2 separate regions of the Homo sapiens genome follow, and region 2 is linked to region 1. The links come from fine-mapping of genetic effects on gene expression. Tissue or cell type: whole blood. Region 1 holds a variant in brackets; the other region holds the start of a gene. All regions are shown on one strand. Distances are from middle to middle.

Region 1 (6,283 bases):
ATTGTTCTTTTTCTGTATAGTCTTTCCCTTTCACCAATAGGTATCAGAAGTTGAAAAGACCTTTAGAAAATTCTTGCTAATAGAAGAAATGGAAATAGAGAAATTAGGTAAACATGACTTAAAGTCTTCATGTTAGACCTGAATTTTACAGCTAGTCCTCTTATATGGGCCATCCAACCAGACAATTGACTGCTTCATTTGGAACTTAGGTTTCAAAAGAAAACTTATTTTGGGGGAAACTAAGCCTGAGAAGATTAATTTATTGCCAATTTAAATGCCATTTTTGTGTCATTAGCCTACTAAAGGGTAGCACATCAGATTCGCAAACAAATATTTTTTCAGCCCCTACCAATGTCAGATGCTTTCATAAATGAGTTATTAAAGTTAAACATGTACAGATGTTTATTAAATAATTGTTAAATATGTCAATAACTTGGATTGAATATGCCATTATAACCCTCTTTGAATGAGGAAATGAGGCGAAAATTGTTTAACGGCTGGGTTTCTTGATAAAAAGGAATATTGCTTGTAACAACTTGTATTGCCAATAATTATCACAATGGATGATATGTAACAAATAATAAATATGTAATGCATAAATGGGTGTAGCCTGAATCCATATAGTCAGTAAGAGGTAGAACCCTAGATGTGAAAGACAATTTCTGACTTCAAGACCAGCATTTTTTTTTCCTAGGGTAAAGGAAAGCTTTCTTGCACAGGATAAAGGAAAGCATACTGCAAATATCATTCTAAACAAAAATATTCCCTCTTTCAAATGTTTGTTACAAAAATAGTAGTAGCCAGGTGAGTGACAATAAGAGAGGATTTAACAGCTTAAAAAAGGGGAATGTACTTAAGAATGTTTCAGATTAGTGCTCGATTTAAGTCAGAGACATCTTTGTAGACAATCACATAACAAGGATGAAGAAGATTCTAGAAATAAAGTGCAAAGCTTATTCTTAAGGAAAATAGTTGCTGGAAAACATGAGAGCCGCTGGCTTATTTGATATAGCACCATTAGCCAATAGTCTGTATAATTAGTCAATATTCTTTACAATATTCTGTACAATTAGAATGATTCTGCTATGTTGTAAGTTACAGGGATCTGATATAGTACATTTATGGGATGTGCAGTTAGAACTGAAATGGGGTTGGAGGATGTTAAAGTAAGATACTTATCCCAAATACTTTACCGGGGAAAAAAAGTGAATCCAGGGAGAACTTCATATATACGTTCTTCAGAAATTATTTATAATGTTGAATTTACTGGGGGTTCTTTCAGTTCACACTGGATTCCCATAAGCTGGAAGAATAAGCCATTAGCTTTCTTTCCTCAGAATTTGCTTAGTAAGCTCTTTCCTTTTTTTCAGCTTACATAGCTAATGTCCACACCTCTTTCAAGTCTATGCTTAAAACTCTCTCAGTGTGGGTGACCATCTTCAAATTTTAGAATTTATTTGATCTCCCAAATTGTGCTTCCATAGGACTCCTTTTTCATTACATTCATAATTATTAATTTAATGTATATTTTCCTTGGTAGCATAAAATCTATATCTAATGTATATGTTCTCTGTTAGTGCAACATCTATATCTCCAGTGAATAGGACACTGCCTGGAACAGATAGCTGCTTAGTAAATACTTAATGAATAAAAAAACTTCTAATGAGAGGGCTGTGAAAGTTTGGATGATGCGTTCACTTAGGTTGACTGAGAAGCAGACACCAAAATGGAATTAGGTGTATAAGAGATTTATTGGTGAAGGGAGCAAGAGAAGGCACAGAGAACCTTCAAATTGTGACATGAGTCTGACCTCTGTGGAAGGAGAGAGGGAAGGAAGGAGTATTGGGTAGAAAGAATGGCGACTGTAGCGCAGGCACAAAGGATGTTTAACCAGGCCAATGGGAAGCCTTCGAAGTAAAGATGCCCATTGGAAGAGTGTCATGTCTTACCAGAATGGGTCTGCCTGAGAAATCCTGCTATACTTAGTCATTGGTTAGGAGCAACCACAATGGCCAATGTAGAGAGACAGCAGCAGTGGCCATCAATCAAGCATGCTTCCTGCAAGAGATGAGAGCAGCACATTTTGATGGCTGCCATGCATGGAAACACTGAGGGAGATTTCCTACCAAACTGTCTTTTGGAAGGCTTGTTTACACAAAATTTCTAAAAATACATGTGATTATAGTCATGTTAGTTTAAAAATTGTTTTCTAAGTTAACACATTGATTGTTATGTCTTATTTGGCATAGGTATCGCTGATCTAGTGGTGATAAAGTTTTGCTTCCTGTGTTTGTTTTTCTAAAATCAAAATAAATTATTAAACTTTTGCTAGAAAATGTGAAAACGAAGGGTAACATACTGCTTATAAATGGCAGTGATGGCATCTTTTCCAGAACTGAACTGCACACTACTTACTTAAGCTACATCAGTGGAACAGGCATTTCTTCTCTCATTAGTAATCTGTGATGCACAGTTGATAGCTTACCATAAAAGACTAGTTAGGGTGTAAACACCTGCACAATGTCTTTAATGTTCATAACCAGGCAGTATGCCTCTGAAATCCAGAATATCCTTCATTCTCAAGGCCTATTGCTGTTGCATTTCAACAAGCAAGGCCATTTGAATCAGGAGGATATATTGCCTGTGTTACCAGATTTATTTAGCAAGCAAGTGGAAGATGATTTGACTGATGCAACCTTCTCCAGGGACAGAAAGCAAAAACATGAATACACTGTTGTTAAGATATTGCAAAGACCTGTGGGCTATAGGCTGACAATGCTTTATGTCAAGATCATTGGTTTTCTCCACAAAAAAAGTCTTAAACCTTGGAAGTTAGGAGTGGGATTTAGGAAATTCTCTATCATGTCCGGCCTGTGTTAATTAGGATCAAATTATGTGGGCCTCTGTAGCCTGGGATAAACTCAAAGCCTGGGTTCA[A/G]TGAAGATATCCCGACTCACTGTTATGTGGCTTGAAATTACCATGGACTTCGTTTTTGTTGTTGTACTTGGATAACTGACATTTAAGTAGTCAGCTTCCTCCAGAAGCTTCTAAGGCATCCTAGTATTTATTCAAGATATGAAAAAATTATGCCTACAATGGCTGGTGCCTATAAAATCTTGCAAAAGCACTGACTTTGAATATTTGATTTTTTTCTTCCTTTAGAAAGATAACATTTATAAAAAGGGTATATGAATAGATAGGATTACCAAAGATAAGGTAAATAAAAGCATAATTCCTAACACCATGAAAGAATATTTTCAAGTTATTACAAAGTTTAAAAACTGAGGTTTAAACAAGAAAGACACAAGGTATGATATCTTTATGAGTGAGACCAATAGCTCTCTGGTGGCCTAAATATTTGCCTTCCTAGTCAGTGACTGGATTTCCATGACTGTTACCCATCTTTTTAAACTAAGCACATATTTATTGCAAGCCAACTATGTGCTAAGCACTATTGAAGGAGCTAGAGATATAGCCAGGAAAATAAGTCCCTGCCTTCTTGAAACTTATTTTATAGCTAGAGAAAAGGGTTAATCAAACATATAAGTAAATATATCATATGCCAATAATTATTAAGAGCTGTGGGAAAAAATAAAGCACAGTAAGGGACCAGGTAGTGGGGAAGAGGGAGAGGGGCAGCATGGATACTGCTTCCTCTTTCCTAAAGAATTGTCATGGAAGGGCTCAGTGATAAGGTGACATTTCAGCAGATAACTTCATGAAATGAGGGAGTAAGATACACATATATCTGAGAGAAAAGCATTACAGGAAGAGGAAACATCAAAGGCAAAAGCCCTCAGGTAGGGGCTTGACTGAGAAGTCAAGGAACATTGAGAAGGCCAATGTGGCCAAAGGGAAGTGAACAAGGGGAATAGTGGTAGAAGACATTGTGTGATAAAAGAGATGCATGTGATTTATTGAATAAAACATCCCTAGGTATTCCCTGGTTTTATTGAACTTGTAGGTCAGGGTGAGAAATCTGTCCATGATATTTTGGAAGAATTTGAAGCATGACCTGCATGGCAAACTAGGAAGGCAAAGATTTAGAAACCAGTGAAGGAAAACAAGATCTGACTGTATCGCCTGAAAAAAAGCCATTCTTAGGTCTCATTTGAGGTGCTTCCATTTACTTGAGGTGTGACTGAGGGATATCTTCTAATTCATTTGGTGCTGCCTACGCTGTTCACTATTTGAATCCTCATTGCAAAGCTCCACCTTGTCTCTTGAAAGTTTTAAGGGCAATTGCATAACTTATCAACCAAACTAGAAGAGTATAATAGGGTGCAAGTAAAATTATGACAGAATAACACAAAAATCTGGACCGTTGCAGGGAAACTCACATGTGTGGTCATTCCACTTAAATCTAGGAACTCAGCATCTTTGTAGCCAGCGCTGGCTACTGGATGCTGGTGAAGCTGGAAACACTGAGCTGAGTGTTGAGGCTTGTGAGATGCACCGCTCAGTCATTCCTCCAGGTTTTGCTAATCCACCAGGGTGCTGCAAGGGAGCTGGACATAGATCTACAATACCAAAAGTCCCATGGACCTAGTCTCCATCCAGACATAAGGAACCTCATCATTACTCTCCAAGTTTGAGCCTTCCCATATTCAAAGTACATGTGGATTCTCTTGTCCTTACTTGTAAAATATCCTCAAGAGTTCAGGCTTTAAGAATATAAAAGGTAGGTAGAAACAGAAAATGTTTTTTAGGTACATTTAACTGTTATCTACACAATAAAATTTAGCTCTTTTGTGAGAGTGGCAAATAATTCCTTTCTTCTCCTCATTATTTCAGAATTATTTGAGAGGTAGACAGAGATTACCAAGAGAGAGATCATTAGGCCAGCTGTATTACTGATAAAGCTGATTGGAGAGGTGGTTTTAGATGTGTGGCCAAATGCACTAGTAAATACTTTACATCTTGACAATTAGACCTATTCATCCACTTAGTAACCAGCATACTGGACAACTTCAGGTCTCCTCAGAAGGGACAGAGCCCCCTGAGAGAAGGTCAGAACATGAATGGGTAGAGGATGTGACAGGCTGGTTTCAAAAGACAGAGTCTAGAAGGGGCTCCAATCCTACCCCACGGAGAAATTACTTTTTCTTCTATTGTGAGTGCTGTGGTCTCAATGTATGTGCTCCTCCAAAATTCATATGTTGGAATTTAGACCCTGAAGTGATGGTATGAAGAGGTGGGGCTTTTGGGGAAGTGATTTAACAATGAGGGCTTTGCCCTCATGAATTGATGAGTACTTTCTAAAAGTAGTCAAAGGGAGTGTGCTTGTCCCTTTTTAGCCCCTTCCACCATGAGAGGATACAGTAAGGGAGAGGAGCCCTTGCCAGACACTGAATCTGCTAATTCCCTCTTGGACTTCTCAGTCTCTGTAACTGTGAGAAGATTCATTTCTGTTTTGTTATAAATTATCCAAAGTATTTTGGTTTAGCAGCACAAATGAACTAAGAGAATGAGCTTCAAGGCAAAAGGAGCTTTCCCATAGGAGCTTTCATCTCTAATTTTTCAGCAGCAAAAACAAATACACAAAAAACCAACAAGTTAATATTTCAGTGCATAATTTTGCCTAAACCATGGGCTTTCTGAGTACAAACCTTTAAAAAAGAAGATAACTCTCTTGTCCTAATGTTTAGTTAGTTCATAGTAGGTTTTTATTTTCATTATCATTATCATTATCATTATCATTATCATTATCATTATCATTATTTGAGACAGAGTCTCCCTCTGTTACCTAAGCTGGAGTGCAGTGGTGCGATCTCGGCTCACTGCAACCTCTGCCTCCCGGATTCAAGCGATTCTCCTGCCTCAGCCTCCGAGGTAGCTGGGACTACAGACCCATGCCACCACGCCCGGCTAATTTTTGTATTTTTGGTAGAGACGATGTTTTGCCATGTTGGCCAGGCTGGTCTCGAACTTCTGACCTCATGTGATCCACCCCGCCTTGGCCTCCCAAAGTGCTGGGATTACAAGCGTGAGCCCTCAGCCCAGCCAAGTTTTCAATATATATTAGTTATGCATGCCTGCATGAACAAATGAATCATGACTTTTTCATTTTATTTCCCTAAACAGAAACTTTCAGTTGACTTAATTGAATTTATAAGTTATTTCTTATCCTAGAATCCAGCACGTTTTTATCTTGTCCTAAGAAAACTTACCACATTATCTTCTACACTTGCCAATATAATCTTTCCATTCCTGTCCAATGGATCTAGTGAAAATTAGTTGTGCCATGCTCACTTTCATTTTATGATTGTTTAGATTGTATTAC
Region 2 (5,551 bases), 79 kb before region 1:
TGTTTTTACCCCGTGGTTCTTAATTTTCTATTAGGACACAGGTCCATTTTGGATATTTGACTATGTACTATCTCCCTTAAAATGCAGCCACTCTAATGTTTAAATACAATTTTAGGGACTTCACGGCCCCTTGAAGAAGATCACGGACCCAGTTGTTTAATGGCTGAACAAAGCACAGAATGCATAGACAACTTCCACTGAAGCAATAATAAAGCTTATATGTATAACTTTCAGACCAATTAAGTGTTGCTTATTTTGGTTACATCGTCGTTGCTATCATAACGAGTTTACTTTTTACCACTGTACATAATAGGGTACCTGAAATGATCACTCTTAAAGAAAAAATATGTATAGCAATTTTAGGAAAAGCAACAGACCACTTCTACACTCTGAACCAAGATAAAAAAAAATTATATCAAGTGCTTCTATGCTTACCCATATGTAACAGGAAAGTTTGACGTTTGTACAAAGACAGTTCTAGTAAGTGGTAGAGATGTATGAAATCAAATCAATTCATTAAATAGGCATTTAGTGAAATTACCATAGGAGAACTGATCCTAAAACATCACTATTGATATGTTATAAATGAAGTTCAAATGAAAGAAAAAAAAATCTGTCCTATTTAAAACTCAGCACTGTTTCCATAGGTTCCAAATCAAGATGCCTTCAACCAGTCATCGTTAAGTGAGCCATACAATCTTCTGGCTTACTTCAGAAGATGTAAACTGTTTATCGAGTGCAAAATGAAAGAATAACCATGTGAAAATCAGTGAGCAGAGAAAGACGCACGAAATCCATAGCCTGAAATCACATGACCACATTGCAACGCAGCCCCTCACACCATTGTCACTGTCAGGCAGCTCAGGCGACAGGGTGCAGACAGGCGCGGAGACCGCGGTGGCCCCCTGCTCACGCTTTCTCCAAGAGCCGCAGTCCTAACGAAAACAGAAATGGGACTGCTAAGCAGTAAATCATTTGTCTCTCTCGCACACACGCGCACACCTCGTGGAGCCGCTGGGCAGTTAGCCGGCTGCCTTCTCTGGGCAGCCCAGCGATCGCAGCTTTTGCTGTGGAGGAGGACGCGCCTCTTACCCACGCCGCAGCCGGCCGGGTGAAGTTGCCCTGAAGCCCGCCACCGCCTCCAGCCCTGCTGCCTCCGGGGTCCAGGCATCCCCCAGCTGCGCCCGCTCGCTTGCCTGCCGGCGCGCCGGAGGCCGCAGCGCTGCACGCGGCTGATGGGCTCTGGGGCCCAGGCGCCCTGGCCGTGGGAGACCAGCGGCCCCGGCGCGCCCCGCGCGTTCTCACGGCCCGGCCCCGCGAGCTCAGCAGCCGGCGCGGCGCTGCTCGGCGCCCACCCCCGTCTGTGCTCCTCCCTCGGGCGCCGCGGGTCCCCCGGGCCCTGGGCCGGCCCCTCGGGCGTCCTCTCCTTTCCTCTCGCTCCTCCCCAGCGTGGGAACCCGATGCTGGCTTCCCAGGGCTGGGCAACTGGGAGCGTACCGAAGGTTTCTCAGGAGAGGAAGGAGACCCAGCCCAAGCGGGGGTCCCGGAAGAGGGACCGCCTGTCTGAAGAACCCCGACCCGCGTGGGGATGCAGCGACCACTTACTTGGTGGCTTCGCACACCTCGGGGCTGTGCTTCCGGATCTCTAGCAGCTCCAGGGCGCGCCTCGCAAATCCGCACTGCGAATGGAGAAAGAGAGCAGGCGTCAGGGGTGGCAGGCAGTGAGCGGGAGAGGGGACCCTGCAGTGGCACCTGTCGGTCCCCGCGCGAGTGCACCCTGGGCACTCGCGGCAGCGGCACTTACGCTTGGGTCGCTCATGTCTACCTGTTCAACAGGCTAGGCGGGACGCGGCGTGCCTCGGAAACTGTATCGCCCGCGTGGCTCCCAGACAGTCCTCCTTGCCTTTGTCTCTCTGTGTCTGTGTCTCCCTCTTTGATCACCCCAAAGGAACCCTTGCAGTTCCTTTCCATAAGGCATTCGATTTTTTCAGACCTCTGCCCGCCTCCTCCCCTTCTCCGCACCGAAAGACTGAAAAAGAAAGTAGCAGCCAAAACGCACCATGGTGAGATCACGCCCGGCTGGGGTCTCTAAGCTCCTCCAGGCGCTCCCTCCCCCACAGGTGTCCTCCGCCTGGGTCTGTTCCAGGCTGCTCGCTGCTCTAGCGCAGGAAAAGTGTAGGAAAACTCTGCACTGAAACCTGCTTCTGGAAAACTGACTCTGAGCTGAGTCCCACCCACTAGGCTCAGACTAGGGCAGGGGAACTGAGTCCTGGTCTCTGCAGCCGCCCAATCGCCATAACAGAAATCACTGTGTGGAGACAGAGACCTAGGGGCAGGGGACAAAAAAAAAAAAAGAGAGAGAGAGAGAGAAAGAAAAAAATTGGAGGGGACTCCAGGAAAATTTGGCACACTTAAAAAGAAAAACAAAAACATGTCTTCTCCACTATGCACTGGTGTGGAAAAACTGTAGTTTTCCACAGTTAAAAACTCCAACATTTCTGCTGGGGAAGTTGACATCTGCGCTGATGACTCTCTTGTCCTGGTTTTCAGATTTGAAGCCAATCTACTCATTTGCAGATGCAGTTTTATGGTTACAGAGATTTTACATCTTTTCAGTAAGGTCTGGCTTCTGCCTGGTTCAGTGCATTTAGTTATATTTGTTACCGTTGTGTGTGTTGTGATATTATGCTTTTAGTCACCTTTCTGACTTAAAAAAATCCCATCATGCTGTTCCATTGTGAATTAACAATTAATCATGATCTTTATGTGATCCATTTTCAATTCAGTTCAATTCATGGTTATCTTCCTCTTTTATATCTCCCCCAAGTACACCATCTAATCTGGTCCCATTTGTAAGCTCATCACATTTGCAAACTTTCTCCCAGTCTTGCCTACTGTGCTTGCCTCATAGTGAACATTAATCAGAATCAGGAAAAAAATACATTTAAATAAGTCAGGAACAGTTAAGAAAGTCAGCAATATAAGCACAGGTAGTCACAGAAACTTTTGCCTTCCTGCCATCTCAGAAACTTCTCTTCCTCTACATTTAACCCATGATACTCTCTTAGATCAGTAGGACATTTGTACTAAGAATATTTAGAACTTCAGATGTAGAAGGAAACTTAAAAAATACACAGTAATTCATTAGTAAAAAGAAGAGGGAAGTCATACTATTTTTAAGTAAATGCTATGAACATTCAGAAGAAAATGAGATATTGTCTGACAGGGTTCATAAAGGAACAGTACTAGAGATAGGACTTGAAGGATTGGTTATGTTTGGAAAAAGATAAAATAGAGGACTTTTTTGTTGTTTTTGCTTTTCTCTGACAGAGGGAAACTTGTGAGCAAACATACAGAGGTTGGAAAGGCATGACACTGTTATTCAAGAAACAAGGAGTAATACCATCTGGTAGAAATAAAAAGTACATAAAGAAAAGTGTAGGAAGATACGGTGGAAAGATAGGCCGGGTTCAGATGCCTGATCCGCAGTTGTCACGTGTTGCAGGCTTGTATAAAGACTTTGTTGTTGCTGTTGTCCTCGTCTGTTGATACCATTACCAATATTCCTTTCATTCTGGAAAATGACTTGTTTAACCCATTAATTTCTACTTTTACCATTCTCAAGTTTTATGGCACACCAAACTCCTTGATTAGTATTGCATTTGACCCCAGTACATTCTGCCAGGAGCTACCGAGTTTTACTAAGAGTAGACTCTCAACTGGATAGTGTCTTGTCTTCTTCCTCCTCTATCCTTTCTGACTGTCAGACAATGGGTAAGAAGAGGAAGCAACCAATCTAAACATAAGGGTGGCTAGAACCACCAAAAGGTGACTGCAAAAGACATTCTGTAATCTGGATGTTTGATATGCTCTAAAAAAGTAACAAGAGTTCCTTGTTGTTAGGGAAATACTAATCTTCACAGCCTAATTTCCTAGTAATGAAAATGGTTCATAACGGGATTCACTAAAATGCCTGCTGAGTGGATAAATGAATACCTGAATATTTCATCATCTTCCAGGTCCAATCTTCTTTCTTATAGTTGACTTATGGGTTAAAACCTACTTTCCTCCACTTTATGGAGAATAAGAAAGTTGTCATGACAACTTAATAAAAATGTTAACAAGGAAAATTACTCAGTGTAAAGCAATCTCCTTAGCCATGTTGATGCTGGCAGAAAAGCTCAAGAAATTTTTATTTCCTCTCAAGATGCTTTGTTTTTCTTGTACCTACAACCCACAATTGACAACAGCATGAAAGCATTTAAATGTACATTACTTTCACACTTGCAAATGAAAGGACAATGGCAACTAGAGATAGTATCTAAATCCTTGCTACTCAGAGTATGGTTTCTATATTAGCAGTATCCCATAACCTACAATCTTGTTGGAAATACAGAAGTTCAGGCCCCTCTCTAAACCAACTGAATCAGACTATCCATTAAACAGAATCCTCAAGTGATTCCTATGCACATTAAAGTTTGAAAAGCACTGGTCTACTATCAAGGCATTAAGTATGATAAGCCTCAAAACACATCGTATGAATCTTTCTAAATTCAGGGATTTTTAGAACCTGCATCTTTATTTTTCTGGGTTACTATTGCCATGTCAGTTCAAATAAAGTAATGGGACTAATGGTTTCATCTCTACTGACTTTGTGGACCATAAAAAATCCATAAACCAAGGGGAATTAAGAACGAGATAGAGAACAGTAAAAGGGTAGAAATGAGAGAAGTGTTACATATATGTCAGGGTCAGAGCTTTGTTTTATTTTTAGCAAACGAACAAACTATGGATTGTATGGTTTACCAAATTAGGATAACCTCTCAAATATAAGAAAAATAAGATAAACTTCTGGCTCCTTATTTCCTCCTTTTCTTAGTATTATTCATTTTCAATTTGTTTTAATGTACCTGGTTAAAGTTTACACTGGTAACTTGCAGTAAGATGATGCAAAGACTCCAAAATGTCTCTTTTGTATGAATGTAAAGCTTTAGTTAGAAAAACTAGATCTTATTAGGTTGGCGTCCACGCATTTCTAGTCCTGGTATAGACATTCACAAAGCAGCCTGGACTGGAAGAGATTCTGATGGTAACAGAAATGCTGTCCACTATATTTTTGCCAAGGAGTTGGTGTTTGTGAGCAGTAAATACAGTGGTAGGTAGAATAATGGCACTCCAAAGATGTCTACCTGCTAATCCTTAGAACCTGTGAATATGCAATTTTACATGGCAAGAGAGAAGTAAGGATGCAGATAGAATTAGGGTTACTAATCAGCTAGTCTTGAGATGGGAATATTATTCCAGATTAGGTGGGTGAACCAAATGCAATCAAAAGGGTCCTTGTAAAAGAAAGATTAAAGCAATAGAGTCAGTCAGAGTCGGAGTGATGCTATGTTAGAAAGAATTGATAAGCAATTGCTGGCTTTGAAAATAGAAAGGGGGCTGGGTGCAGTGGCTGACACCTGTAATCCCAGCACTTTGGGAGGCGGATGCGGGTGGATCACTTGAGGTCAGGAGTTCGAGACCAGCCTGACCAATATGGTGAAACCCT

Evidence for each region. PIP is the estimated chance that this variant, and not a neighbour inherited with it, causes the effect.
Region 2: it holds the start of GUCY1A1, and the variant in region 1 is fine-mapped to the expression of GUCY1A1 in whole blood (INTERVAL, PIP above 0.99).

What each region holds. Positions count from the first base shown.
Region 1 is chr4:155,583,700-155,589,982 of GRCh38, reverse strand. No RefSeq gene overlaps it. Among named protein-coding and RNA genes, the nearest start is that of GUCY1A1, 80 kb to the left of the region's middle. The variant A/G (reference allele first, on the strand shown) is at 2,938.
Region 2 is chr4:155,663,474-155,669,024 of GRCh38, reverse strand. It overlaps GUCY1A1 (guanylate cyclase 1 soluble subunit alpha 1), which reads right to left and starts at 2,177. Exons shown (of 10, transcript NM_001130682.3): 1 at 2,060-2,177; 2 at 1,606-1,679.